Regions from separate parts of the Homo sapiens genome. Here region 2 is linked to region 1. The links come from fine-mapping of genetic effects on gene expression. A gene starts in region 1. The other region holds a variant in brackets. All regions are shown on one strand. Distances are between the middles of the regions. Region 1 holds the start of OXR1 (oxidation resistance 1). Region 2 overlaps OXR1 (oxidation resistance 1).

Region 1 (15,889 bases):
GAAACTTGAGATCAGGCTTTATGATTCTTGAGAGTAAAACAGTTGGAACTAATTCAAGCATAAATGATCACTTGCAAGGGCACAGCTGAAGTGTGGTGGAATTAGCAGAGTACAAGGACAAAGAGGGTGCCAGACATCATGCTAGCATCTTTACTTGCTTATGTCACCGAATCATCACAGGAATCATAACCTATAATCCGGTGGATATGATTCTTAAAAAGTAGTAAGGTAGAAAGTAATTTGCCCAATTTTTTTGTAGCTAATAACTGAGGAACAGAGATTTGAATACAAACTTGGGTGGTGCTAAAGAGAATGTTCTTTCAAAGTTTCCATCTGTTCTGGTTTCCAATTTTAACTCTTTCATTATTCCAATTGATCATATGCATATCAGTCACCATAAATTACAAATAAGAATACATACATTATTTATTTTACAATGAACAACATACAACAGGTTTTCAGATTTTTATTGAATCTGAAATGCTTCAATAAACCATAATGGCAACAACACTAAACTGGTATAAAAACATCTATAAACTTAATAACAGAATTATCAGCAAGGGCCAATCTTCAATTTTCTGATCATCAAAAAATACATCCTAGTTGAAAGACATTATGCATATGGTTTTGTTTGGTTTTAGAAATCTTTACCTAAAGCTCTACTTATTTTCATCCCAATTAGGAAAAAATAAAAAGGCGTTTAATCTTTTTGACAATTTAGGTGAATACCTGAATTGAACATAATTAGAGACCCATCAGTTACCTTTTTTTTTTTTTTTTTTTGCCTCTAACAGAATCTAACAGCTGAAAGGAGAAGCTCTTGAGCTAAATATCGGTTCTTGAGCATTTTTAAATAAACAGAAGAAACATGGATTTAACCAAGAAAATAAGCATGCTCTTGAGAAAGAGGTTTGGATGGAGATTTTGAAAACTGTAAACTAAGCTGAAATGATGCAGAGTGACTACTGACCTCAGGCAAATCACTTCATAATTATCTTCATTTTAAAGATGAAGAAATAAAAGTTCCATAAAGTTAAGCTCATCTAAAGTCACAAACTACTAAGCAGGAGTGCCAGATTTGACTGCAAAGCTCTTGATCTTCCCTAAATGTCTGTGCCTCTTTCCTTGTAAATGGGTGGTTAGTATTCTGGCTCATCAGTCAGTCTTTTCCAAACACATCAGTTGATTGTCAAACCTGGTCAAAACACTGTTGTTCAAATCAAAATTGCAAAAACCAGGCTTCATGATCCAGAAGGCTGAGTTCAGTGTTTTGGTCAGTGGGGTCCCAGACCAAGGTCAAGCAACATGCATGTAATTCTGTAAAACAGACTACAGCCTGCACCTATTACTGTGCCCCCAATGACAAACAGCATGTCTCTTTCACCTTCTTTAGGAGGATAGAGACAATTCTGAATGACAAAATCAGAAGGAACCACATCAGCCATCTGAGCCCAGGATTCAGATTCCAAACGGCATCACATAATGAATAATCCAGAGATAGAAGAGATACACTATTTATAAAGAAGACTGAAAGCCTGGGGAAATGTTCCAGGCTATTTTTTTTCTTAAGATGAATAAGCATTTGTAAACAAAAGTAAAACCTTCCACAAACAAGGTTGCCTTTTTCCTGCATTGCTATTACTTATCTTTAACAATTATAAGATAAAATGAAATTTTAAAAAAAGATATTCTCTTTGCCTTTGCTACAGCATAAATTTCAAAATCTTGCTCTGTGTGTGTGTGTGTGTTTGTTGTTGCTCCTGAATTCAACAAGAACAACATAAGGTGTTTGATAAAATTCTCACATGACCCTCCTTCCAGCTGGCACAATAATTGACATGCCAGAGTAAGCAGCAAGTTTGTTTTTAGGTAAATGGAGCTGCCATCTTATCAATATTTCCTTTTCCCCCAAATAAATATGGTTTCTCCAAACAAGTATACTTTAAAGCATAGGTATTCCCTAGTACCCAAAATAACAAAAATGCTCAGTTCTGTAGTCTTTATATTAATCCCCCCAAAATAGTGACACAGAATGTTCAGTCTTTGAAAGTGTGTGGTTAGAGCCTTTGCTGCAAACACCATTAGAACAAAACTGATTTGAAATTCTGCTTCCTCTAACTACCAGTGCCAGCCAGCCCATTGTCTTCTACCACTGTGGCTATCAGAAGTGCAAAAGGGCACACATCCATTCAACAAGTATCTGCAGGGAAGGAAACCACCTCTCCTTGCTCAGATGTCAAACAAAATCAATAATCATTTGCTAAGGAAAGGAAAAGGGAGACAAGAACTGACCCCTTTCACCTCAAATTTCTCATTTCTTCCTTGTCTAGGCTGTACAGAAATCCATGTAACTGTTTTCCCTTTAATGATTTCTTCTGCCTTCTGCATCTCACCAATTATGTTCTGAAGTCTTTTCAACAATCGGGAAATATCTCTATAATTGCTCCAAATTCAATGAAAATGAATGCCCATCTTATGTTTCTTTGTACAGATACTTTTAGAGATATATCTGGGTATTGCAAGTGCAAGAGTCCCAGTGTCTAGAACAGAACCTGCTACTGCTGAGTTTACAAATGCTTATTGAATTTACAAATATGATTATCACTGGTTCAAACCATATTTATTGGGTTTTCACGTAGTCCAATGACAGGTGCATTCTATCAGTACCAGTGTTGCTTACACTGAAGTCATCTTTTCCTCAGGTCTTTCACTATTCCCTTGGGAAAGAGGAAGCCTCTCTAATAGCAAGAATATGCAATTGAACAAACCAATTCAGTAAATATAGAAGCAGAGAAACTGAGGTTGCCTTTGTGAAAAACAAAGGCTCTCCCCACTGCCTTTTTCCAAGACAGGTACAAATCCCCATTCCACCTAGAAGCAGAAAAGAGCTGTTTGTGTTTGTATGCACAGGAGAAAGGGCGGGGTCGGGGGGGGGGTGGCGTTGCTGGGTGCCCCAGAGTCTTAGCAGGAGTATCAAGTCTGCTGCGACACAAATCCCTGAGGGACAGTAATAGGTAAGGGTGATTGGAATAGTTATTAGAACAAGAAAGGAAGTAAGCAACCCTAATGATGATACCTTCAGAATGAATTCTGAAACAAACCAATAACAAAAATGGGTGGAATGGTGAGACAGAAGAGGGGGTAGATACAACGACCAAATTTTAGTTTCACTAGGCTTCATTGTGCTAATGACAAGGCTTTTACCTAATAAGTGCTCTGAGCTCCTGCATGCAGGGGATATTAGAACAGTATCTTATTACATTTATGAGTGTAAGGTATTGTTCCTCCTTTCTAGGCAACGTATTGTGCTACGGAATCGAAAGGCTTGATGCTTCTCAATACGCTCCATGCTGTCGATTTCAAATGGAAATTAAATACAATACGAGAAAATTATACGACATTCTTACCTTTCTATGTAGATACCTATAAATACTAAGATTTCATTTTGGAATATTTTGGGGTGTTTCAAATAAATATTTGTCTAACATTTTTCTCTGATTGTTCAATCCCTCACTTGATAAAGAACTTACAAGTTGTAATTTTAATTAAATTCATTTGAATTAAAAATTAAGATTATCGCTTTTAAAAAGCAATTACCAAACAAGTTCAGTGAAATTAGTACAGCAGAATAGTTCTGATTTGGTTTTATCAAACAATGTTTACTTAGCTCACATGCACATATGCATATGATTCACCTTTTAGAAATTCTCAATATGTCTTAAGATTTTTTGTTTGTTTGTTTTTTAAAGGCTGAAAAACAGTTCTGCCAAAAGGAAGCCTCTTTAATTTCCTTAAAACAAGTGTTTTTGAATATGGACCATTTTGCAAAGAAAGTCTCTTATTAACTACTCTTGATTTTCAAGATGGACTTCCAATAGGAATATTTGAAAGTATCCTAAAAGGGGTTGCTTTTAATGTTAAGCACATCTTATTGAAAGCCAAGTTTCTCAAATTAAGCATTACTGACATTTGGGCTGGATAATTGCAGAAGGCTGTCCAGTTTATTGTAGAATGTTCACAGCATCCCTGGCCTGGCCCACAAGACACCAGCAGCACCTCTCCCCCAAAGTTGTGACAACCAAAAATGTCTCCAGACATTGTCAGTATCCCCTAGGGGGTAAAACTGCCCCCAGTGGAGAATCACTGCTCTAAGCCTATCAACAAGATCTATCCCTAAAGTGAGAGAAAGTGATTTCTCTTCTTCCACTTTGACTGACATCTCTATTTCTCATTCTGCCTCCTCAAGCCATTTCACCACCTTTACTTTCTTCTTCTTCTTCTTTTTTTTTTTTCTTTGTAATGACTTTATCTTAGGGCAACAAAAATTCCATTGACTATTTTCTAAAGCTTCCCAGGATTTAGGGAACAATCCTCCAGAAAAAAAGTGTCCAGTTAGGCTTCCACTTAAGGACCAGGAACCAGCCCAAGGGTACAATCCTTTGTATTTCAAATGCAGGAGATCGGGAGTAAAAGATTCTCTCATCTCACATTAAATTTAGCATTCTATAATGAAGCCTTTTCCTGCACACACTCAAAAGATCTACCCGGACCTAATCTCTGCTTTTATATGATACCCTAATCAATTTGGCCGACTTTCCCTCTTCCGTGACCCCCAAACAAAACAATACAGGCAAACATATCAGATGATGTTTTATTTGAACAGCATTCTGTGCAGAACAGAATGGCTAAAATGATCATTTATTTTACCTTCACATGATTTATAATAATGACTGAAAAAAATCATAGCCATAAAAGCCAATAATGACAGCAGAAGTCTTTTTATTCAAATCTCCCACCTTACAGATGTCCAGAATAATCAACATATTTCAAAGGGTATATTTCAAAAACGTACTAGCAACTCAGCCAGCCACTGTCACATGGAATAAGAAGACATGCCCTGGCCATTAGAACCATGCTGTCCTCGCTCTTGTGTCCCTCCACGGGACAGACATCACCTTGCAAGACAACTCGTGCCACTGTCCCCAACAGTTTTCCACAGAGTTCTTGTTTCCCTTCATCTGAATCTTCTCTGTGCAATTTGATGTCCTGAACTATTTCTGACGGTTGCACACAAGATCTCAGGGACTGGACCTTTTAGTTATGAGACCAGCCCTCTTAGACAGCAGACAGTAGGTACAGTGCTTGCTCTCCCTTCTTTGCATCCTTCCAGAGTTGCCTTCATCCTCATTTCCTGCATCTGGTAAAGTCTCTCTGAAAATGTGAAACCGACGACAGAACATGGCAAGCTGGATGGAGAAGCCGACAACCCCTCCCCCACTCTCACCCAACGCCGGGCCGGTCCTGTTTCGGATCCTGCACACTGTGGAAGCTTCTTGCTTCCTTGTTTTGGTGGGTGAAATCTTTGCTGTTCAAAAAGGTGTTTTTGCACAGAAATTTTAGGACGTGTTTATTCTAGTAACGTAGTGTTTTCTTTTTTCGCTATATTTACATGTGGAGAACTCCAGGGAGGCCCCCACCAGAGATCCCTTAAATGCTGGTCTCTGTCCCTGCTTCTCGGCCCCGCTGGCCTTTTGGAGCCATCGTGCTTCCCAGTCCGCAGGCAACAATCACAGCATCACCTGCAAGGGGCAGCAAAGTGAACCGCGGACCCCTGGAGTGACGCCTTGGAGATGGACCCTTTGGATTTGGGAACCCCTCTGACGGCCGGGACTCCCAGGATTCCCTTCCATAGAGGGAGTCCACGGTGGTCGCAGCCGGCGGCTGAGTCCTCCTTAGAGTGCCGAATCAGAGAAGACCCGCATCAGGTTTGGGATGTAAGTGGAGAGGGAGAGGTTAGAAAGAGGCATCATTGGATAAGCAAAGAATGCTACCCTGGGAAAAGGAGGCAGAAAAGACGTAGGGAAGTATGTTCCCCTTAATCCCTTCCCCGTGCCGCCCGTAGATCCCTGGATCTTCTTGTCACGGAGACAGGCTGCAGCCACACACGCGACCCCGGGCCGGAAACATGCACACGCGCGCGCACACACGCACACACACGCCCCGCTGCGAGTTGCACGCTGCAGACTTCTGCCTGACTTCCCGGCCAAAAACACCGCACCTCTGGGGCCAGACCACGAATTCCTGTGGCCTAGAACTGACACCACTCCCCCTACCCCCGCAATACACACATTCAGACCCTACACTGCACCCTGAGCGTGCCGGGAACCACTGAACGGAAGCCCGAGCAGCTCCCCCCGTAAACGACTACCTTCCCCACTGCCTAATGTCTATTTAAATCTCCTAAAGCTCGCCTACAGCGAGCCGAGGTGCGTCCAAGCCGGGTAGTAGACGGAGGAGGAGCCAGGGGTGAAAGTGAACCTCAGATAACAGTACTAAATCACTATTCAAGGGGCGGCACGGGGAAGCCTCCAACCCTCTCCTGAACCTTTCAGGCCCTACCAGCAGCCCAGTTCCTCCGCCCGATACTGCACAGCTCCCCCCCTCTTCACCCAAATCCCTCAGCGATTTTCCAGTCGGCCCTCCAGGCCACTTTCTACATCCATCCTTTCCCCAGCCAGTTCCCAACATGTGGCCTCGGGTACTCTAGCGGGAGACAGATTCCAGGCTGACTCCATCATGATGTGCCCCCTAGCCTTTTACTGATTCCCCAAATTATCCGAATCCACTCGCCCCTCCGGAGCCCACTGTCCCTTCCACCGGCGTCCTTTGCTCTCGTCCAAATCCGCTTTCCACGCGCCCCACTTTCCACCCATCCTCCTGCCGTTCTGTTCAAGACACGCTTGCCCTCCACTCTGCGCCCCCAACACTGCTCTCACGCTGCTCCCACTCTATCCCCCGGCGACACCCCCACTTTCCTTCTGCGGCTGTCCCTGGCCGGGCTCCCGCGCCCCAAACCCAGCCTCCCCGCCCGGTCTCCTCCCTCGCCGCCCGGTCTCCTCCCTCGCCGCGCGGTCTTTCCTTCTTCCCAAGTCCGCCCTCTGGGCCCCCGCTGGAGCTAGTTCTGCCCTCCTGCTCTGCCCGTCGTCCCCGCTCGAGCATCCCAATGGCCACCCGCTTTCAAATTGGCTAAGTGGCTCGGAGAGGCGCCAGGCACAGGGGGCAGAGGCCAGCCGGCTCTCCCGGGCGCCAGCCGCGCCTCTCGCTATCCCTCCTGGACTCCCCCGGGCGCCAAGCCCTCGCCCTAACGCCCAGCAGCCTCACAAACTTACTTGCGGGTCGCCAGGAGGGGGCTGCGGTGAGCGGCGGCGGGCCCCGCGGCGGCGAGTGCGCCCCTCTCGGCGGGGCTGGGCGGCGCGGCGCCGGCGCTGAGCTCCTGTGGCCGCGAGGTGAATGGGCTCAGCCTGACGCAGCCCAGCTCTAGCCCCGCTGCTGCCGGCGCCGCTGAGCGCTTGCAGACATGCTCAGTTTCCGGACCTGCCCGCGTGGAAGCTACCAAGAGCCGGCAGCGGCGGGGGAGACTGAGAGGAGCCGTGGGGCGCCGCGAGCCGGAGGCTACCACGCCGGGGGCGGGGGGAGGCACGCACCGCTAAAAATAGCTCCTGCGGAAGCCACGCTGGCTTAGCGCGCACCCCTCCCCGCGCGCGGCCCCTCTGGCTGGGGTTCGGGTTTCTGCTCTGGCTACCGCGGTGGGGACCCCAGCTCGCCGAGTCCTGCCAGGCGTCTGCCTGCACTAGGATCCCCATCCCGGTGGAGACGGCGCCTCCAGTTCAGGCGCCCACTCGAATAGCCTGGACTAAGCCAGAGCTGCCCCGATTTCGGGGTCCCGCCTGTCGGGCAGCTCTAATACTAGGCTCTCCCTAGAGAAGCAGAGGAAAGTTTTGTTAAAGCGATAAAAAAGCTTCTGCAAGGAAAGCTGCAAGGAAATTTGTTCAGATTTACGGAGGAAAAAAATGTTCTTCAGATGCTTTGGTTGCTGGGAAAAACAAGGAGGAAAGGAAGGCGAAGTCTGACAGCCTAGAAAGGGACCCAAGGCAGCTTGGAGCGGGCTGAAGGGGGTTCTGCAAAGAGCTTCTAAAATTCAGAATTCTTTGCAAGGCGTTTGTGACTCCTCATTCCGCAGTGTTTTGCATAATTCGTTGACACCCCACCCTGACCTTGGAGATTTTCTTGTTCCTGTCACCTGAACTGTAATTTACTTTCTCCGCATGCTGCCTTCACTCCTTCCCCCTCCAACCCGGTTTTAAATTGCAAAACGAAAAGGGCGCAAACTCTGGATGGGTAGATTCCCAGACCTGAACTGGAACCTGGCTGTTCTGTAACCCTGAGGAAAGGAGCTGGTCCTGTTGCCGAGTTCGGGATGTATCCCAGATCTCCTGTGCATCCAGCAAACACTTCAAGCGTAGGAGCCTTTCAGCCACCTCACCTGCAAATTAGCTATTTCCCGCTATTAGTGTTCACTCTATTCTACCTTAATTTCTGATCATTTATTATTATTTTTTAATTCTGTTCTTTAAAGTAAGAGGTACAGATATTTCCTGGGTCAAATTTCCGTCTTGTTTCACTCACCTCTCACAGCCACCCAATGAGAGAATCATTATTATTCCCATTTGACAGACAGGGATGTTGAAATTTAGCGACAGGAGCTCATCGCTTGTCTGGAATAATAGAGTGTTGAACCTAGGGTCGGCCAGACTAGAAACTTTCATGGTTTCCGCATAACCTATTTCCCCGAGTCAATAGCTTTACCTGAGATAAGGGATCAAGAAAATTAGATACTATTCTGAGTGGCGTGGCGTGTCAACAGTAAGCCGATTGATAAGCCGATTGCGGGTTTTGTTCTCCATTATTTTTACCTAATTTCTTTACGAGCATTCGCAGCTTAAATTTTCTGTTATGTTGAAACTGATAGCGTTTAATTTTTATTCTATCAGAAAGATTTTACTGAGAATCTTCTACAAGCAATGTATAGACTAGGTATGTATTTTATAATTATCTCAGTTCAGACTCTGTGATAAAGCTACTTTGTTTTCCCAGTATTATAAATTAGTTAGACTTTGCTAACCCTACTAAGTAATGTACATGTGATTTTTTCATAGAACTGTAGTGGAATCTGTCTATTTGGGTCAAGATGTCCTCCCTCCTAAGATATTTGCGCCCTTCCATCCCCACTTGCAATTTAGTGCCATGTGCACCCCAAAATAAGTAATCAATTAAGGTTTGATCTTTTACTTTTTTACTGAAGCTGCAAATATTATCTGCAGGACCAGGGCCACTTTATAATGACAACATCATGTTTCTAATTTTCCATAGGTGATTCATTGGGAGATCAAAATGTGAATTTCCTTAGACTATCAACACAAATCATTCCTTTCTATCAGTGGTGAAGGAAGGTGAAAAATAAACTTTACTTTCATCCTGGTTGCTTTCATTCTTCCTCTTTCAGTAATTATTCTTAAGGTGGTATGGCACTCTGAACATCTTCATGCTACAGCATGCACACTACCCATAATCATGAAACAGGGAAAATCTTGATTTCAAAGTCTCTTTGGTGTCCTATGGAAAAGTGTAGCTCAAAAACGTACTGCATTGAGGACTCGAAGTAACAAGTGACAGGGATGCAATTCTAACTTAGGCAGAGAAAATGCATTGACCCGTGTAACTCAGAAGTACTAGAAATAGCAGGGCTTGTCCTGGGCTTAACAACATTAGGAAGAATATGATTTTCTCTTTCTCTAACTTGCTTTCGGCATTGCTTCCTGTGTTGGTTTCATTCCCCTCACATTATGTCCATAGTGCCAGCCCTACACAGTTGACAAATTTTGTAACCTTACAAAGAAATCAAGTCTCTTGTTCTGTTGAGCAGATCAATCTTTGAAGGTGTACTCTTATTGGCTGTCCTGGCTCACACAATCAACCACCTGCATCCTCTTGGGGATGAAAGATTCTCAAAAGGGAAAAAAGTATTTGGTTAGCAAAAGAAGGAATAGGGGATGTTTGCAAGATGGAAATAATGGATAACCAGTAAACTCATAGACTGGCCTGTTTCCCCATGGACAAAAAAAGGACAGCAAGTGTGTTGGGAGGTCCGTTGGTTTCAGTTATTCAGAAATGAGCAAGATAATAATAATGCTTTGAAGTGAACTTTTCCCATCTCTTTTTAGGCTCAGTTGCTTTGATTTGCCTGCCTAAGGGTAACAGAGAGTCCCCTCTTTGTTGCCTTTTCATCTTTATTTCAGGGCCCTGGTTATTTCCAAGGTGGTGCCACTCATTAAAGACAGCTAATGAGCCACCCAGCCAACTGACGCTTTCAGTCCCCAATCTGTCTCTGCAGGAAAAGGATGTTTTCCATATTATTAAAGCCCATTTTTTTTGTTTTGATCTAATGTACTTGATCATTATGTAAACCATTTGATAATAAAAAGTGGGGGTTTTCCCATTGTGCCTCAAAACATGAACAGATGGGGGAAATGCTGCTGTCCTTATAGTTTTGTATTATTTCTTATGCTAGAATTATTTGAATAATTGGCTGTCTTTTTTCCCTTTACTTATCTTATGCAATTTGTTTGTTACCTCCTTTAATATTTGTTATTCTAGGAATAAATCAATGCAATCCATGAGTCATCTCATTTAAACTGCATTCTATAGTTACGTTAAACTTATCAAATCCAGGATCTTTTCCTTGAACTTCTTCTCATGACTTTGTACATTGTCTTCTAGGAACTCCTCCCTTAGCTCTGTCACACCACAGCAAACATATTTTTTTTTTTTTCTCTGAAACGGAGTCTCACTCTGTTGCCCAGGCTGAAGTGCAGTGGCACTATCTCAGCTCACTGCAACCTCTGCCTCCAGGATTCCAATAATTCTCCTGTCTCAGCCTCCCACATACCACATCTTAACCTACACCTCAGATTATTCTTCTTTTCTTCTCCTAGTTCTCATCTCTGTAGTTCTTTGTCCCTCTCTACACCACACTGCCTTTTTGTTTTAGTTATCTACATACTTGCTTCTCCTCCCCCACTAAACGGCAAGTTTCTGGAGGATTGGGGCAATGGCAAATTTATATTTGTGTGTATTTTATCTTCGTCAGTGCTCAAATAGGTGCTTGCTGATGCATTGAGGGATTATAGGACAGGAAGTGAATATTTAAGTCTGAAACGGGGAATGCATGAGGTGGGCACTAAGTCATCTGCTTTCAGGGAGTCAAGGAAACATGGAGAGAGCTGATGCTGGAGGTAGGCTGACATGCAATATACACTACTTCTTTCACCATTTTGTGTAGGGATACCTCTGTATAGTCCGTTCTTTTCTCCTTTACTTTGTCTTACTTTGAATTCCTTCACTGAGATCTATGCTACACTGCCAAGCATCTGGTATACTTCCAGGTATTGGCACTGACCACTGAGCATATTCTCCTTCCATTGCACAGAGGCAAACCATTTTAGATACTTGGACACTAGCCTGTCTTTCTGTTGCACTTCTTTCATACCAAATTTGCTTTTAGAAAATCAGAACCAAGGTAGAAATGTGAAACAATTTGTAAATGAGTTTTTTAAGGGAAAAGGAAATACCAAGACAGTTTCATTAAAGGGCTATTAAAAGTTTGTCTTCTTGATAGCTATTTTCCCGTTGTGAAAAAAATTAAATTTGGAGAACTAAATAGTAGTAGTTCAAAGTCACTTATGCCCCAATTATTTTTTCATTTCATGACTATAGATAAATGTCACAACAGATTCATTAATGATATATACTAAAGATATAAATGCACATTTCTACCCTCTCTCTGCACTTTCAGGCTGAAACAATTCTAGATAATAGTCATGGGACATTAAGGATCACACAGTATTTGTGAATCAAAGATGCTTCTTGACTAAAAGACTTAGCTCTGATGGCCCTTTCCTCAGGAAAGAAGAATGTGGATAATTATGTACTTCAAATATCAGGATGCTCTTTTCTTGCCTCTGAATCTAACACAAACGTGGCTTAGTTCTTGCAGAAGCAGCAAGATCCTGATAAAGCTACAACTCGTTTCACTTCTCTTTGAGTCCAATGCTACAATAACAAGTATGTTTAATGTGTGATCTCAGATTCTCAAATATAACTAAGAAATCTATGACCATTAGTTTATTTCCACAATGTTTTTATTATAACGGATTCAAAATACTACTGTGCATCAACTAATATTAATAATAATATTCAACATTTATTGGTACTTCTATGTGTCTCTTTCTGTGGTAGGCACTCCTTTGCATACTACTTATTTAATTCTCATAGCAATCCAATGAGGTATATAGTATTTTAGCCTATTTTTGGTTGGACATATAGAAATTCAACCTAGACTGGTGAAGGTGAAAAGGGAAATTTTCTGGCACAATAGTAGAGTGAAATATAAGACAGGGAGCTTCTCTGAGCCTCAGGAGGTGGAAATGCCATCACAATTCTGTCCATATCTCATCAGCAGGTTTATTTTCCCACCTTGCAGACAGGCTTTTTCCACAGCCTGTATAGTCCTTGGATCCCTTCATTAAATAAGGACAGGATCTGTTCAATTGGCTTTGGTTTAGAAGTTTCCAAAGAACTCGGTGGCTTGCTTCCAAAGAATATAGAAAAGGAAGAATAGCAACTTTACAGTGGAAAAGGCTGGCCGAAACTATCTTAACCAAGTGATGAAGGCTTAACATCACCAGTGATGTCATGTGACTATCATTTACTGTCTAATATTATGTAATGACAAAGGCACCTCATCTCTGTGGATTTCTTTCCAAAAACCTACAACTCCAGTTGAATCATGAGAAAATATCAGATAAACCCAAATTGAGAGACATTCTACAAAATACCTGACCAGTACTCCTTAAAACTGTCAAAGTCATAAAAAACAAAAACTAAGCAACTATTATACAACAAAAGAGACCAAAAAGACACAACAGCTAAATCCACTGTGGTATCTTGAATTGTATCCTGGAACAGAAAGAGGGCATTAATGAAAACAATTGGTGAAATATGGAGTTCAATTAATAGTAATGTAACAATGTTAATGTTAATAGTAATTAACCAATGTTAATGTTTTGACAAATGTAAGATGTTAACCATGGGGCAAATTGGGTGAAGGATTACAGGAACTCTCTGTATTATTATTACAACTTTTCTAAAAACATAAAACTATTCTAAAATTTAAAAATGTATATTTTAAAAATACAGAGAAAAAGAAATCCCTGGGGAAAAACATGATCCAAGAAGCTTGGGTTAGGTGCCCATCCAAGACAGATTAACTGAATAGCAGGCAAGTGCATCCAGCAGGAAAATGTCCCCTGGGGTCCAGACTTGGTATTCCAGCCATTCCCAGGGAATGAGAGTGGACAAGAGGGATGGAAGAATATAGCTGTGAAGCAGGCAGGACTGCAGCTGGTAAGTAACATAGATGAAAAAGCTGAAGGTCAAAGAACTAAGTGTACTGTATTTCATCAATCTAAGATAATCCACATGTTAACCTTCATGAAATTGGGATGTATCTTTTCTTTCTTGGTGATTTGTCAGCAATGTTGTAGATTTGACAAAATGTGGTAATTTTCTTAACCGTAGTAAATTATAAGACCCAGGATTCCAACACAGGTTCTTAGTTTAACTGTCGTTCTTTTCAGGCTTTCCTCGATATTGACCACACTGTCATGTAAAACAAATGCTGATTATGTAGACAAAACTGCAAGAACAAAAGTAGAATTGAAACCATGAAAAATTTGACCTAAGAATTTATTAATCTAATAAAGTCATCAAGACACTATACACATCTAGAGACACCAAATTAGATAGAATTCTGTGAAATTAGGATAGTCGAGGACCAAGACGTAGGCTATTTGACATGTAATATACAAGATAAGTTATAACACTCCATTTTAGAAATTTTAAGTTGACATTTCAGTTCAAGTAGCTAGAAAGAAGCTAGATATATTTTTAAAATAACTTTTCTTAGCCCTGCACCTCATTAGTTTAATAAGATACCAATGAAACCAGGTAACATGGCATTTGTGTTTCATTCCTTTAATACACAATAACATACTATTAGGAAAACAACTGAAGACAATGAGGCAGAGCCTCTACCAATTCCACTTTTTAATTCATTATCATTTATTGTACACCTGTTATTAGCCATATACCCTAGTGGTATATATTTTTAAAAAGATAGATACACTTGGTTCCTGCTTTCATGAAACTTGTGTTTCATCATAAAAGAAAGAGGTTTCAGAGTGTAATTACAAGTGAGGTAAGAATTTCAAAACTGTAGAAGTTTTGGGAGCATATAGCCAGGGAATTTAATCTAGTCCAGAAGGACAGAAATGGCCTAAGGAAGTGATACTTAAGCTGATACTTTTAATAAAATAAGTACAGACATTTATTGAGCACTTGCTGTGTGCCAGGCACTAACTTCAGTGCTTTACCCAACCTGACAGATACAGTCCAGATGGCTAGCTCATTATATGTTCAGACCTCTTTCTAGAGGTTTTATTGTAGGCATAAGTTGAATGGCTAAAAGCCCACCTTTCTCAAACATCCTTGTAGCTGGATCCCCAGGTATAATTTAGGTTCTACCAGTTACAAGTTTTTGGCTAGCACACTATCCCAAAACTCCGCTGACCTTTACATGCCTGCAGAAACACTTTTTTCTGATTGCTTTACCTATAGCTACCTCATCTGAGGTAGTTGCCTTGAAAGATTGTGTGTATTTTCCATTCATTCACTTCTACCAATTTTCTTGGCCTCTAAGTCTATAGCATGAGTAAAATTTCAGCAGCCCGAGGAGGTTGGGGAGCAGGGGGAAATTACAAAGTCAACCCAAAGGAAATTCTGCATGCTTACAGAATAGCAATATTTATCTGTTTTTAAATTGTATTTGCATGAAGCATGAGAATATGGAATATGTGTATGTGAATGGATTCGAGTTTGCTAAACCAAGGAAGAAAGAGGAGCATAATTTATTAATGTGGGGTCACTCATCAGAGAGTCTGTCTTTAATATACTAGCAGTTGGAAAAAGTTCTAGCAATTTGTTCACTTGGTTAACTTAATCCTGATCTTAATGTAAATGTAAAATATGCAGTGAACTGTGATAAATGAAGATGTTAAAAATTCCTAGCTGTGATATAACAGGGATCTGAGAAGGTGTGGAGATGGGGATGTTGGAGTGGCATTATCCAGGACGACTGGCTCAACAACTCCCTGTTGGTTTCTGGGAAGGCCCAAAAGACCCTGCTTTCACCAAAACACCAAGTACTGCATTGGCTTCCCTCTTTTGCCAAGAATAAAGGTGGGAGATACTGATGTTTAAGTGGTTTCTAAGATTTGATGTAAATGAAAGACTATTAGGGCGGAGGAGGCCAAGGGAGCAATTTAATCACCAGAATCAAGGTGGATGTGATTGTCATGATATCATTATAAATTATCATTATATCATTATCAATCTATTTTATTTATTTGATAGGCCTCTAATGGTTATCATAAAGGTGTGACTCACCTATAAAATATCATAGGGTCCTTAGGATGGAAAAACCTGAGTGTTACTCTGAGGTCCTGCTTAATCTATATAACTGAGATAGCTTTAGTTTTGGTGAACATACACCTGACTTAAACCATCAAAACAGAGAATCATGACTCTTCATCTAAATTCCAGACCTGGATTAGAATGGCAAAGAGGGGGCAGGACTAGCTTGCAGCTCCTGCTCAAATGAACAGAGCAGCATGTGGATTCTCACATTGTGAACTTTTGCTCCAAGAACTACTGCAGGAACATAACAGGAAAGCTGAGAGAATCCACAGACCCTTTGAAGGAACTGGATCACTGCTGCAGGTTCCCTGAAATGCTGAAAAACTATGACTCTGCTTGCATTCTCAATGGGGAGGCTCATGGTCTGGGGCAAGTTCTAAGCCTTGGTCACTGGCTGCCTGGAAATACACTTGGTGCTGTTGCGGCAGGGGGCACGGCGGTAGTGAGACTGGCCTTT
Region 2 (15,889 bases), 450 kb before region 1:
ATAGTTATTATCTCAGGCTGAAGTCACTGGAAAGATTTTTACATTTAAATTAGCTCTTCCTAAAAATCCACCTGTCAGCTAATTCTTGAACAGATGTAAACAATTCGACATACAAACTTTTCTCCTGTGTTTTCATATATGAAAGCCTAAATTTAAAAAAAGTCTGTTCATATATGACGGCCTAAACTAAGAAAATGGTGATGAAATTAGTGACTACTGATAAAGGCAATGAAACACTGATGCTATTTAATGACTTGTGACTTTGATTAAGACTAAATCCTTATTATAAAATGGGCTTATAATTTCAAGTAAATTACGACTTATTGACAGACACTAACAAGGTAGAGTATGGCACATGAATATATCAAATACATGAATAGCTTCAAATAAATGAATGATTAAAGTTTAAGTTATCAGAATAAACTATAAAACGGCCTTTAAAAAATAAAAGATAACAAAACTTAAGCATGCTTGATCAATATGGTTCTCATCGAAGCTAACTGGCAAAAGGTTAATTTCATGCCATGCATTTTGTTAGGAGTGTATGCTGCTTATTAGTTATTAATGTATTTGAGATGTAAATTAACTCACTTATAAAACAAAACAATCTGGTTAACACACAGGGTTACTGTAAGGTCATGTGATACTACATACATAGGCATTTGGAAAACTGTCAAGGTATCTATAGATACCTCAGTGATAATCTCTCTTACAGAGGTAGTAATAATATGGCCATATTATTTGTTGGGTAAAGACGAAGAATTCTAAAAAGCTACACATTATAAACTCCAAAAAGTCAAATTTCATTTGTTCTGAAATACTGGTTATTCTCTTAGAATTTTTTTTTTTTTTTTTTTTTTTTCCAGTTTAGAAGCATAAGAGCCCCTTGTCAGGCAAAATCTTACAGGGCTCTCAATCTACAAAGCAGGTAAAAGAACTGCTAATCCTTTTCATCCCAATTTTCTTAAGAGCTGCCTGCCCTACAGCTCCTAGAATCTCTGCTTTAAAACAAAGAAAACAACTAGAAAACTGGGACTTCAGCTTGTCTACACAACAAAACACATCATATTGTTCTATTTCAGAAAAACTTCAAAGTCATCCTGGTGAACTACAATATGTGCTAGGGTCAAGCTGTCTCTGTACTACATGACAACTTAGTTCAGTGACCACTCCATGCTTCAACTAGTCTTCAAAATGGGAAATAATTCTACTAAACTTTCAGGGTTACTGTGAGGGTTCAATTAAATAACATATATGTATGGGCAGAGCTAATGACCAATGAGTAGGAAGCATTCTTGCTCAGGCATGAAATAAAGTATCTGACAAAATTATATAGCCTCCCATAAGAATGAACAGAACTTGGCTGGGCGCAGTGGCCTGGAATCCTAACACTATGGGAGGCCAAGGCAGGTAGATCTCCTGAGCTGAGCTCAGGAGTTCAAGTCCAGCCTGGGCAACAAGGCGAAACCTAGTCTCTATAAAAAATACAAAAAAATTAGCGGGCTGTGGTGGTGCATGCTTGCAGTCCCAGCTACTTGCCGGGCTGAGGCAGGAAGATCACTTGAGCCCAGGAGCCCAGGTTGAAGTGAGCCAAAATCCCGCCACTGCATTCCAACCTGGGTGACAAAGTGAGACCCTGTCTCAAAAATAAAAATAAAAATAAAGAATGAACAGGCCTTGGACGTGGTGACTGTAATAAATGTAAGTGTTTGATGCACATTAATTAGATTGACCTATAAATTTCAGAATAACCACAATTTATTTTGCTTGTATTTGTAATAAACTGTATTGAAGTCTTTGCAAACTAAGAATAAATGATTATTCAAACTTCAAATAAAAAAAATGTATGAATAGCTTCATTGTTCTTGGTTTAAAAAAAAAACAACGGTGTTAACTGATTTATCTGGTAAATCTAATCACAAATTTTAAAAATTCAATCATTTCAGGTGCCTAAATCCCTCTGTGCTGATGTAACATATAAATGAATTTTGAAATTACAATTAAAAATAACACCTATTAAAATTTTAATATTTTGACACACTTAACATTTAAGGGCGGCAAGCTGCTTTGGGGGCATCTTCCAAAGTCCTTATTGGATTTTAAATCATCTACAATTAAGTGAAAATAAAATAAACATTCATAAGCAAAATATAATCCCAAATTACCACAGAAAGAGCAATGGACAATACATTTTATAACAATGTACACGTACAGAAAAATAAATAAAATTCTTACAATAGTATGGTTGACTGAATTTCCTTACTAGGATATCGTTTGAAGATTTGTATTAGGTAGCATTGCCTGAAAACTTTTTGAACAGCTTAAAAAACCTTTTAGTCAGATTCTTAAAATTATACCCTTAAGTAAACAATATCATAAAAGAATCTGGTTTGAGATCCAGTCAATAATAATTAATTTACTCTGTTCTATTCAATTTATTTTCAAGCAAGAGAAAATTCTGAATATTTTTCTAAAAAGTTAAGCTAAAATAAAAAACATTAAGGCAACAATTAAGATTTGATATCTTCCTGTTGGTGTAGAACATACAAAACACTTAATATGAAACAAAATTACAGTCCCTTATTAATTTCCCTTTTTGAAGATACTCAGAATTAACAGAAACAACTTCAAGGTACTTTGTACAATCATAAAATTTTGTATTCTATAAATATCCTCTATGCTTAAACTTTCAGAAATTGTATAATTTTTCATAATGTCACCATGAAAAGACTAGTATATATACAAATTAAAATAATTGACTAAGATTTACCAGAGTGTATTTATGATTAATTGGTTGATGTCTTCTCCCTTTTTTCCCATACCAGAGACGAGACATTTCCTTTCCAGGGCAAATTAAGTTACATAAAATCACGTAAGAACTGTTTTCAAAAGCATTCTTCCTCTGTCAAAGATAAATTTCCAGCACTAGAGCCTTACTACAGTGACAAAACAGTTTGCTAGAGACAAAGATTTGATTGACAAGAGAGAGAGCTAATCACTAAGTAGTATCCATAGCAATGATAGTCCTGAGTGGAGGCTGTAAAGCTGGGGAGGGAAGAGAGAATTTCCCATGCTTAAGTTTGGTTGCACTGTACCCAAATGTGCAAAGAAAGGGCTCAAAAGTTTAAAGACACAGAGCCTATATTTCCAAACATCAGTACATGAATATACTAAAAGTAACCCAGTAACAAAAAAGTAGTAAATATAATTTCCAGAGTCTCTTAAAGCACATGAATGATTTGAATGAACATTTTGTTATTTGTTCATATAGTCATAAAATTATGTTCCTTACTTACAGCTAACAGTACTATAAGATTGTATCTTTTATGTGAACATTTTTTAAGCAATAAGATGCCTTTTGTGGACTCTTCCACCCTAAAATTTTACAGAATGACTGTGTAAAAACCAAGCCAATATGCTACAAATAAATCCTACACAAATATTCAAAGTGACCTGAAAATCCCTCTGCCTGTTACACAGTCTGTTTTTAAATTGCATTTTCTAACATCTAATTTCTTGAAAAGGTAGTTATATTCACTATGCCTACATATACTTCACTAACCAGTGATATTTTGAATATAAGCAAAGAAGTGAATTTTTTAAAGATTAAATATAAACTACAAATACATATAAACTAAAACTATCTAGAATTCAGTTTTAATCAGAATATCAATATCATGATGATACATTTGAAAATTTCTTCCATTTTAAGGTAAAGCAGCTCCTTCCACTTCACTTTGTTGTATGCACACATGATGCCACCTTTTCACACACACACTACCTTTCTAACACGCAATACTGCATCCCAACCAAACCCCCACTCCCATCTCCTTCCTCCACATTCCAGCATGCACTCACACAGGGCACAGCACACCCCACAGTAACACCCTACCTCCCCCACATACCAACCATTTCCCCTATTCCTCTCATTCAGCCCCACTACATTTACCCTAAAATCTCTCCCACAGTCCCTCATAGGAACACCATCATTATCTTCACACCAGGAAAGTTCTCTTCTACATACAGTGCATTGTGGTCACACTCCACCCCTCCATCACAGACTCTCCTAACAACCATCAGCAATATTATATAATTTGGTGGTGGTGGTGGTGGAAGCAGCATTTTGAAAGCTTGTCATAACTTCCAGCTACATTTTCTAAAATAACAAATATGACGTGTGTTCCAAAATGAGGTTTAAATGAGATATTAAAAACAAAACCAAAAACCACCAAGCATGGCATAGTCTATTCTGTTGGTTGCCTATTCAATATCCACCCTTACAACTCCTTCCTGAAGTGGCCTTGATTTTGCTCAGGTATCCTTCCAGCCATGTGTTTCTGAGGAGGCTGGCTCTCATCTCTGGACAGAACTAGTCATTAGAGACCTAAATCAGTGGCTTTCAAGTTTTAGCCGGCATCAATATCACCTGGAGTATTTGTTATACCAGAATGCTGGGCTCCAAAAATGGTTTCTAATTAATCAGACTCAAATGGGGTCTGAGAATTTGCATTTCTAACAAATTCCCAGGTGCTGCTGCTGCTGATGGTCTGGGAACTACACTTCGAGAAACAACAGGTTTAAGCTATTCTGAGTGTGGTTTTCTGTTTCTCGAAGTCATCCAAATTTATAAATACAGTGTCAGGCAAACATAAAATGAGCTCAGTAAGTCTCCTTCTTGCCCTTTCTGTTTTTGTAGTATTTATAATACATATTGCTAAGTCATTTAAATTTGCCTAGATATCCAAGAATTTGAAGCAGATGTCAATTGTTATTATTATAACATGATGGGATATAAAACAAAGCACTTTTGAAAACACTACCAGTTTACAAGTTGAACATAATCTGTTCTCATAATTCAGATATTCAATTTAATAATCCTTTTCCTTTACTTTATTCGAACTGAAGTTATTAAATTACCTTATATCTCTTCCTATTTGAGTTGGGAATGGTATGATAGAAGCTATAATATATAATTTACCCTACTCACTATTTATTATTTTATGCCAGGTGAGGTGGCTGTAATCCCAGTGCTTTGGGAGGCTGAGGCAGGAGGATTACTTGAGCCTAGAAGATTGAGACCAGCGTGGGCAACACAGCAAGACTCTATCTCTAAAAAAAAAAAATTAGCTGGATGAGGTGGCACATACCTGTAGTCCCATCTACTGAGGAGGATGAGGCAGGAGGACCTCTTGAGCCCAGGAGTTCGAGGATGCAGTGAGCTGTGAGTGTGCCATTGCATTCCAGCCTGGGCAACACAGCAAGACCCTTTCTCAAAAAATAATAATAAATTTAAAAATAAAGTAATATTTTAGAATTTTAATATTTAAAATCATAAACTAGTCTGTCACCCATAAATCCTCTTCTGACAGTCTATATTAGAGGTTTTTTGTTTGTTTGTTTTTTGTTTTGAGATGGAGTATTGCTCTGTTGCCCAGGCTGGAGTACAATGACATGATCTCTGCTCACTGTAACCTCCGCCTCCTGGGTTCAAGTGATTATCCTGCCTCAGAGTCCTGAGTAGCTGGGATCACAGGTGTGCGCCACCACGCCCGGCTAATTTTTGTATTTTTTTTTTTTTTTTTGAGACAGAGGCTTGCTCTGTCGCCCAGGCTGGAGTGCAGTGGCACGATCTCGGCTCACTGCAAGGTTCGCCTCCTGGGTTCATGCCATTCTCCTGCCTCAGCCTCCTGAGTAGCTGGGACTACAGGCATCCACCACCACACCTGGCTATTGTATTTTATTTTATATTTTTAGTAGAGACGGGGTTTCACCGTGTTAGCGAGGATGGTCTCGATCTCCTGACCTCATGATCCACCTGCCTCGGCCTCCCAAAGTGCTGGGATTACACGCATGAGCCACCGCACCTGGCCTAATTTTTGTATTTTTAATAGAGATGGGATTTCACCATATTGGCCAGGCTGGTCTCGAACTCCTGACCTCAGGTAATCTGCTTGCCTTGACCTCCCAAAATGCTGGGATTACAGGTGTGAGCCACCACGCCTGGCCTAGATAAAGATTTTTAATGGAAATGTTATAGCTCATAACTTTGGGCTAGCAATTGAAGAATATTTTTAACAGGGAAAGCAAAACACTAGTTCAAAACTCTCCTAAGGTCGATAACAACTTTAAGATAACATAATCAGTAGTCAAAACAGACCATATTAGGCATAAAACCTGGGTGCCAAATGCTAATAAAAGAAAACATAAACAGTCTAAAAGTTTCATTTGTAACTATACAGGTTCTCAACATAGAAATATAGTCATATATCACATAATGACAGGGATATGTTCTGAGAAATGCATCTTTAAGCAATTTCGTTTTGTGAACATCACAGTGTGTACTTACACAAACCTAAATGGAATAGCCTACCATATAACCAGGTTATACGGTATGGCCTATTACTTCTAGGTCATACCATATAGCACGTTACTGTACTGAATACTATAGGTGACTGTAACACAGTGATAAGGATTTGTGTATCAAAATATATCTAAACATAGAGAGGGTAATGCATTGTACTATGATGTTATGACATCACTAAGAGACAGCTCCATTATAATCTCAGGGGACCAACCAAAATGTCATTATGTGCTGCATGACCGTATTATGAAAGTCAGTACCTATCAACTAATAAATTCTAATTAAGTGTTTAATCCTTCTGATTTCTTTTTTAGATTTATTAAATTTCTTCTGGAGTTATAATTTGTAATATTATTTGATTATTCGATCAGTATTAAAAAAAAAGAATACTTAAAAAAATTCCCTTTATCTGAGAAATGTGATTTCTCAATGTAGTGACTTTATACACAAAGAATTCCTTCACTTTTGGACAAAATTAATTCTATGTGGATTTTGCTGGCTAGACTGAGAAGAGATCATGAGGGTTTTGTGCGTTTAACATATTAACTCAGTTTTAATTTTGGTGTTACTTGTACCTTAATAATAATAGAAAACATATGTTTAATAAAATGATCACCAGAATACTCACTGCCTGTCAGCTTAGGAAATAAGATATTAACCAAACAAGGGAAGTCTCCTGATAAGGTGTTTCTTAAAAGTTGCAGCAATAACCACGGTTGTAGAAGTTTTCTGGGAAACCTAATGAATGATCCTGACCATAACTCTACTTAATGATAGCTGTGAAAACAGAACTGGCTCCACAAGGCAATCACCACATAGTAGTGAAAAACCAAATCCAACAATGACATAATGTGATAAATGTTATGGCCTACAATGCTAAGAACGGGTTACATATTTTACACTTATATAACTAAAAGGGACAGCACTAAATACTAAAGTCAAAATGGAAAGACTATAAATTATTTTAAAAACTAAGCTGAAAGGCAGATTCTAACATATTTTGAATAATAGTATAGAGGTTTATATAGTAAGTAGTTAACATATTTACATTTATACTTAAATAATCTAAACTTCAATTATTGAGAAAATGTGACTAATGTCATGTACCTAAAAAGATACAGGTTGTTTCAAAACCCCAAAACTGTACAGAATGTCTTTTTATCAGTATTTTGGCAAAGGTGAGAAGCAAGAGGGAAGCCAGAGCAATTTTATTCAAATACGAATCATTTTAAGAATGAAAAATACTGTTACACACCCTATCAACACATAATCTTAGTAAATTCGTTCTTAAAATTTAATCAAGTAAATGTGTGGGAGACTAAATAAATCAAGTAAAGTTGATTTAATAAAACCAGTTTCTTAGCTGTTTTTATTTATCATCCTAGGAGAACTGGATACTTTAATTAGGTTTGTAGTATGAAAGATACTGAAGTACATGTGGTATAAAATTAGAGATGAAAAATTTTGGAAAGCTTTCTCTGCCAGCTTTTATCCCAAAAGGACTGGAAAAGTCAATCCAAAGGAAAGGAACCAAAAAGCAATGTTAGCATAAAAAGCTCCACCTTTGAGGCCTGTGTGGTCAAGCAGCAAGACTGGCATACTGAACATGTGACACAATGAATCCTTGACTTTCAGAAAATTCTAGTATACAGCCTCTTGAAGTTGGTACTTGGGGTGGATGCTGATATTGTCCAGCATGTAATGTCTCATGATAAATGATGGCAGGATAAAAGCGATTCAACTTACAGTATTACCATTTTGACTTCATGATAAGAAATTCCAAATTCATCTTTATATTACAACAAATAAATTATAAAGCTGAATGAAAAGTTTTACATGAATCTGAGCTTATTGTGGTGGTCACTCCTTTAAGCTATACTACTGGATCCTCAGGCACTTGCCAAATATATTAAATTTTAAAGGGTATTTGATGGACAAAGTTGAAGAAGACAAAGTTCAAAGATCATTGACTTACAGCCTGGTATGTTTTTTGATCTTCCTCT[C/T]CTTGTAGTATCTCTGAGTACACAACATGATGGAAGTCCTGTGGTATGTAAGGGAGCTATGACAACATCAATTGTATCTGCATGGCTGTTACTGAGGAGAAAATATGTTTTCTTAAAAATCAAGGCACAAAATGATTAAACAAACCTTTTTCCATAGTGAACCAAATTTATGTTTTTGATGCAGCAGCCCAGATGAAAGGAATATGAAAAGTATTTCATATAACTTGCATGACAGGAACTCAAAAGCTGATCTATATTATAATCAATATAGTCTAAAGAGTCTTCCACAGTCTTAATATTGTATATGTTTAACACAACACCTGAAGTTGTGGCATGGTGGTATACTAGTTTTCGCACCTTGACTGCACAATGTAACTACCTAGGTAGCTTTAAACAACACTGATAACTAGGTCCTAGCCCCAATTATTCTGATTTAATTGGTCTGATTTGTGACCTTGGCAATGATATGTTTGAAAGCTCCCCATCATGATGCAAAGGTTCCGCCAAAGTTGAGTACTTGGTATGGTGGAAAAGGTATAGGCTCTGAATTAGAGATTAACCACTAAGAGAATTTTAGCCAAATAAAAAACCAGCTTAAAGAAATTATCTGGGCCAGACACGGTGGCTCACGCCTGTAATCCCAGCACTTTGGGAGGCCAAGGCAGGCGGATCATGAGGGCAGGAGATTGAGACCATCCTAGCTAACACGATGAAACTCCGTCTCTACTAAAAATACAAAAAAATTAGCCGGGCGTGGTGGCGGGCGCCTGTAGTCCCAGCTGCTCGGGAAGCTGAGGCAGGAGAATGGCGTGAATCCAGGAGGCGGAGCTTGCAGTGAGCCAAGATGACGCCACTGCACTCCAGCCTGAGCGACAGACGGAGACTCCATCTCAAAAAAAATAAAATAAATAAAAAAATACAAAGAAATTATCTGTAAAATAAAGATGATAATCTATACTTAAGTGTATTGCTCTAGATCTATCAATCATTCAAGTGGTAGAATAACATGTTAACAGACACTATGGGGATGCAAACAGCATATTCCAGACTGTGTGACATTCTACAGAAAAAAAATCTGATTTCTTAAAAACTGAAATAAAAAAGCAAAGCAAAGCAATGGAGGAGGAACCTACATTTAGAGAGACTTAAGAGATATTTTAACTAACTGCAGCATTTGAGAACTTAGTTGGATCATGACTCAAAAAACAAATTGTAAAAATACATACTGTACATATTACATGTATTCTAAATATTTTTATGACATTTGAATAACTATGAACAATTGGAGAAAAGGAGGGACACAGAAGAAATAAGCTGATGAAGCTGAATGGCACATGTGAATTTGTTTTACTATTAATCTTTTATTTTTGTATATTTATTGAACAAAAGTGCGATCATCACGAAATAGCAGATGTCAATAGGCATTCTGCCTCATCTTCACCTCAGGACTTGCCTGACAATTTGTTAAAATGCCATTAGAGCACTTCCCTTTTCAGTGAAAAGGCATAAAAAATCTGTATCAAAAAACAGAAAGTAATATTTATCACAGAACTGCAAAGCCCCACATCAAACAGTATCCTCACAACACTGGATATACTTATTGACTTCCTGTGTTGAATACCGGCAGAAATCAGGGGAAAGACTGTAATAAGTAGTTCCTTCTCAGTTATCAAATAAGGTTATCAGATCCCCAAAAGCAAGACTCATAATGCATATTTCTTTTATTTGGGTATCACACCAAAAACATAAGTTTGGTTCACTATGAAGAAAGGTTTCCTTAATCATTTTGTGCCTTGATTGTTTAAAAACATGCTTTCTTATCAATAGCAGCCATGTTGACGCAATTAATTCAGGCATAGCTCCTTTTTTTTTTTTTTGAGGTGGAGTCTCGCTCTGTCGCCCAGGCTGCAGTGCAGTGGCATGATCTTGGCTCACTGCACGCTCCACCTCCCAGGTTCACGCCATTCTCCTGCCTCAGCCTCCCGAGTAGCTACAACAAGAAGCGCCCGCCACCACGCCCGGCTAATTTTTTGTATTTTTAGTAGAGACGGGGTTTCACCATGTTAGCCAGGATGGTCTCGATCTCCTGACCTCGTGATCCACCTGTCTCGGCCTCCCAAAGTGCTGGGATTACAGGCGTGAGCCACCACGCCCGACCCACACCAAAGTACTCTTTATCATGTGGCATACAAAGTAACACTACAAAAAGAGGAAATTCAGTCCTTTACACATCGTGAGCAGTAAGAATAGTATTTCTCAGATCCTTTATCCAAATACTTAGGAACTGATTTATCATTAGGAACTTTTACTCCTGACCACCTTAAAATTTGGCTAAATTTTCTTTTTCTTAGTAAATATATGTTTCTGTCTGTCTTCAATAGGACTGGTCTTCAATGTTCATATTTGGAAATTAAAATTTTTAAAAATATTACGGAATTTTTCCTGCTATCCCAAGTGTACATTTTAGTAATTTGGGGTGCCATAGTTTATGAACTCTTTTAACATATTTTAGGGTACTGATATGAATAAGATCTGAATAGAGTTCATAAAGTTAAACAGTTGAAGTACTGGAAAAAATAATTCTGAAACAAGATTAAAAGGGAAGACAAACATTTTCACACTATCGCAGTAAATAGAAAATGTTTCTTGTTGTTATTGACTTGCATTGGAAGACAGAATAAAGATAAATGAATCCAATTTACAAAGATATGTTTCCTTAAGCTTATTGTAACAAATAACTTTCTAACAGAGCTGTCCTAAAATGTAAAGTATTGCCCTTTGAGGTAACAAATTCCCTTTCACTGAATATGTTTAAACAGAACAAAAAAAAATGTAAATGACAGACTGTGGACTATTAGTTAAAATGTCCAGAATCTATGGCTTTATGAAAATATTTACTACAACTGATGTAAGAACTTATTTCAGGAAATAGAGCAATCTTGAAAGATTAGAAGCTTTATACCTTAATTTTAATCTACGCCCAAGTTTATCCATTAATAAATATTGAGAATGAACTATATGCCTATACAATTCTTAGTTCTGAAGATATAATAGTGTATGAAATTGACAAATCCCTGCCTTATGACACTTACATAGGGAAAGGGAGAAAAAAGCAAACAATAAGTTTACCAAATTTATCATATACAAACTTCCCCAGTCAATGTATACATTTCTGGCTAGCAATATATTTCTGCTTGAGTAACAGTCAGGGATAATAAAGATCTTTTTTAAGTATCACTAAAGCAGAATAACAGTGAGTAGAGGTGTTAGTTTAAATCTAACTGATGCCCAAGTTGGTAGCCATAACAAGTTCATCCTAAATTCTAGGACACCTATTCTCCATTCCTTTGTAGAACAAAAAAATAAAAAACATCACGGCACATTCTGAAGTACTACTGTTTTATATAAGGGCTTTAGCCAAATTCTTCCTGTTTTAAAATAAATCATGTTAACATTTAAAATTACTCTTTCACTTAAATGAGTACTCATTAGTTTAACAAACATTTTTATTTTATTTATTTATTTTTTTTGAGATGGAGTCTCACTCTGTTGCCCAGGCTGGAGTGCAGTGGTGTGATCTTGGCTCACTGCAATCTCCGCCTCCCAGGTTCAAGTGATTCTCCTGCCTCAGCCTCCCGAGCAACTGGGACTACAGGCGTGTGCTACCACGTCCAGCTAATTTTTGTATTTTTAGTAGAGACAGGGTTTTACCATATTGGCCAGGCTGGTCTCAAACTCCTGACCTCGTGATCCACCCTAGTTTAACATTTTTTATTTGTTACCCTCGGCCTCCCTAGTTTAACAAACATTTTTTTAGGCACTTAGTATCCATGAGGCATAGACCTGCACTGCACAAGAGCAATATAATGTAAGATACATTACAATTGTAAATTTTCTAGACACCACATTAAAAAAGTGAAATTAATTGTATTAATATAGTTTATTTAACCTAATGTATTCAAAATATTATCACTTCAATATTAATCAGTATAAACAAACAAGATGTTTACATTCTTTTTTCTTTCCATTCTAAGTCATTAAAATCCAGTGTGTATTTTTTTTTTTTTTTTTTTTTTTTTTTTTTTGAGACGGAGTCTCGCTCTGTCGCCCAGGCCGGACTGCGGACTGCAGTGGCGCAATCTCGGCTCACTGCAAGCTCCGCTTCCCGGGTTCACGCCATTCTCCTGCCTCAGCCTCCCGAGTAGCTGGGACTACAGGCACCCACCACCGCGCCCGGCTAATTTTTTGTATTTTTAGTAGAGACGGGGTTTCACCTTGTTAGCCAGGATGGTCTCGATCTCCTGACCTCATGATCCACCCGCCTCGGCCTCCCAAAGTGCTGGGATTACAGGCGTGAGCCACCGCGCCCGGCCTCCAGTGTGTATTTTATACTACAGCTCATTTCAATTGAGATTGGCCACATTTTAAATGCTCAATGGTTACATGTGGCTAGTGGCTATAGGAAGTAGAATATTTTACACTACAGCACATCTCAATTCAGGCACTAAATTTTCATAGGAAATACTTGACCTTAATTAGATTTAGACTGATTTAGATCATATTTAGATTTCATGAAATTTACAGTTGAAAAAGTAGATCATATATCTAAGTTATTCCTAATATATTTAAAAATTGTCCAATAATGGAACCAAGTATCGGTTTTTAATTAATAATTAAAACTAAAAATGCAGTCCCTTAGTGGCATTACATGAATTTCAAGTACTCAATAGCCACATATGGCTAGTGCTGCTATACTGGATACTGCGGTAATATTTTCAGACAATGTAGCAAGGAGTTTCCAAAATTATTTTTTTCTCTTCCATTTTCTTTTGAACTGCACCAATTCCGGTCAAAGGACTGGTGAGGAGATTTATTTTTCCTTTAGAAATTATACCCTGCAGAGTCTTGCACAGAAACTGAGACAGTTCCTTTGAATCAAAATAGTCAATAGTCTCTTATTTCCAAAGTTAAGTACTCCAACCCCAATGGAGAGAAAGCTCTCAATTCCCGTTCATGACTGACAATTCTGCCATCCACCGTGCCACCCAAGCTGGAGATAACTTTATGGTTACCAGGTTGTCACTGAATCCTGTGTAATTAGCTAGCTAATACCTTTTCTTCTAGCTTTATTTCATCACCTTCCACTCTACCTTCAACTGTTGCTGCCTTAGTTAGGTACGTATCTTTGATCACCTGGGCTATTTTAAGTACCTTCTAAAGCTAATCTTAAAAACACAGCTCAGGGACATAGATGTATATAATATATATATATATAAGATACATATATATATTATATACGTATTATATATATTATATATATTTTACATATGTAATCACCCAAGTAACCACCACTGAGAGTAACATATAGAACATCCCCAGAACGCAATAAAGTTCCCTCCTGTCCCTGAGCCACCCTGTCACAGCCCAGTATCAAGTAGTGTGATGGATTTCTGACTAGTTTTGCCCTTTTGAACTTCGTGTAAATGAAATTACATAGTATATGTTCATTTGTGTCAGGCTTCTTTTACTCAACATATTATTTGTAAAATTCATCCATGTCATTGCCTGTACCAGTAGATCTTTTTTATTGTTATTTGGAATTCTGTAAGTATTCAAAAATGTATTCATCCATTCTCCTGCTAATGAGACTTTCCAATTTGGGGCCATTATGAATAAAGCTGGTATGAAGATTGATAATGTTGGTTTAAGTATTAAAATAACCCAAAATACATGGTCGATATGTTCTTCTTTCCCTCCCTTATATTGGAGTCACAGTAGAAACTGATGCTGTATATACTACACAGAATGACATTAGACACATTCCAAATCAGTTTGCATTTTAAACAAAAGACAAGCCATGTATACCTTCAATTACTATACATGTTAAGTGCATGCAAGATACATTCATATCACATTAACAGCCACAAACATTAACACCCAATGAATAAAAAAATTTGATTACATTTATTATAACATTTTAGCATCTGCTCTACATTTTCTAATGCATCAAGAAGAGACTAATCTAGGCAACACCAACAGATATTGCCACCCTACCAACCTTATAAGACAAAGCATGTAAAAGGTAATATGTAATCTTAAGATATATCTAAGAGGAGTTACAAAAAGTTTGTTAGTATAACTTTGACCATTTAAACAAGTTCAGTAAATCTGAGCATATAAAATTTCTACTACTTTATAAAATTAGCACCTGCTTATTTCCTTAAAATTATTATTGAAAAATTTAAGTCAAGATAATGCTTAGGTCTGAAACATAGAAAGGAGTAGTAATTTGTATAGATGCTATGCAAATACTATGCACAGATGTGTTAAATGACTGCCGTACCTCCTCCATGGAGGAGATGAAATTAAAACAAATCAGATGTGAAATCGATGTTTTATGAAAATTAATATAACAGCAAAATTAAAATTATTTCCTTCTTTGCCATAATGTTAATCTTTCCTAAACTAAATATTCTATAAGACACTCAATAAAAGTCATTTTATTGCTAGTGGGTTTTCTAGTATTTTAAAGCAAAAGCAGAATGACAAATATAGTATTAAAGTCACTATTCAGATTCATTCAATAACCACAAATAAACACGGATAGTGAACCTGACCTTTAAAAAAATTCCTCTTTTGTGGAAACATCACTTATACTTTGTACTACCATAAAGCTATAAATTCATACAAACTAAAAAGATGACTAAAATCTTCATATTTTTCTCCTTACCTCCCATTCTCTGGCTGCTGCTTGATTACTAGAATCCTCAATTGTTTCAGACTCCTCAATCTTTTTTACTACTATAAATCCAGGTTCTCTGGTATATTCGCCAGTATCTTCTGCATATATTTCTGGACTCCACTGAATGAAGAAGGCATACAAGTGATCTGTCCTGTTAGGAGAAGTGACTATTAATATACCTAGTATTCTGTGCTGCCAGAATTAAAAAATTATATTTGTAAAATATCTTGATAAATCTTGAAGACTTAAAATATACACAAAATATATTGTTTTATATTAATATAAAAGGTCTACTATCAGGAAGGCATTAACTTAAACATTTTATTTGGCTATATTCTGTCAGGTTGTTCTTTAGAAAACCAAATTAAGATTTTCCTTGGCATGTGTTTGACTAGTTCAGATGTTGTATATTATAAAGCTTTTCTTCTTTAAAGACACTAGTGATGGAAAAGGAAATTAGATACACAACTTTGACCTCATTCCTACAATAATCTAATGATCTAAAATACAAGTAAACAATTTATTAATGGCCTATTTTGAGACATTATATACAATTTTCCAAGTTAATAGAAATGTAATGTCCTTAAATTTTAAATGATACTAGGAACATACAGTGTTGAGAGACAGATGATCTAATCTTAGAAATCTCAGGTTCCCCTTTTCAATGTTTTGTTTACTACACTAAAGCCAGTTGTTACATTCCCTGATAAATGTATTTGAGAGTCACACACACATTTCAAATATCTACGTTTTATTGGTTTTAATTAACATGTTTTTGAAAAT

Evidence for each region. PIP is the estimated chance that this variant, and not a neighbour inherited with it, causes the effect.
Region 2: its variant is fine-mapped to the expression of OXR1 in whole blood (TOPMed, PIP above 0.99).

Annotation. Positions count from the first base shown.
Region 1 is chr8:106,261,648-106,277,536 of GRCh38, reverse strand. OXR1 (oxidation resistance 1) reads right to left here and starts at 7,347. Exons shown (of 17, transcript NM_001198533.2): 1 at 7,170-7,347. RefSeq lists silencers at 6,993-7,352, 7,373-7,622.
Region 2 is chr8:106,713,191-106,729,079 of GRCh38, reverse strand. It overlaps OXR1 (oxidation resistance 1), which reads right to left. Exons shown (of 17, transcript NM_001198533.2): 11 at 15,095-15,257. Among named protein-coding and RNA genes, the nearest start is that of ABRA, 49 kb to the left of the region's middle. The variant C/T (reference allele first, on the strand shown) is at 8,365.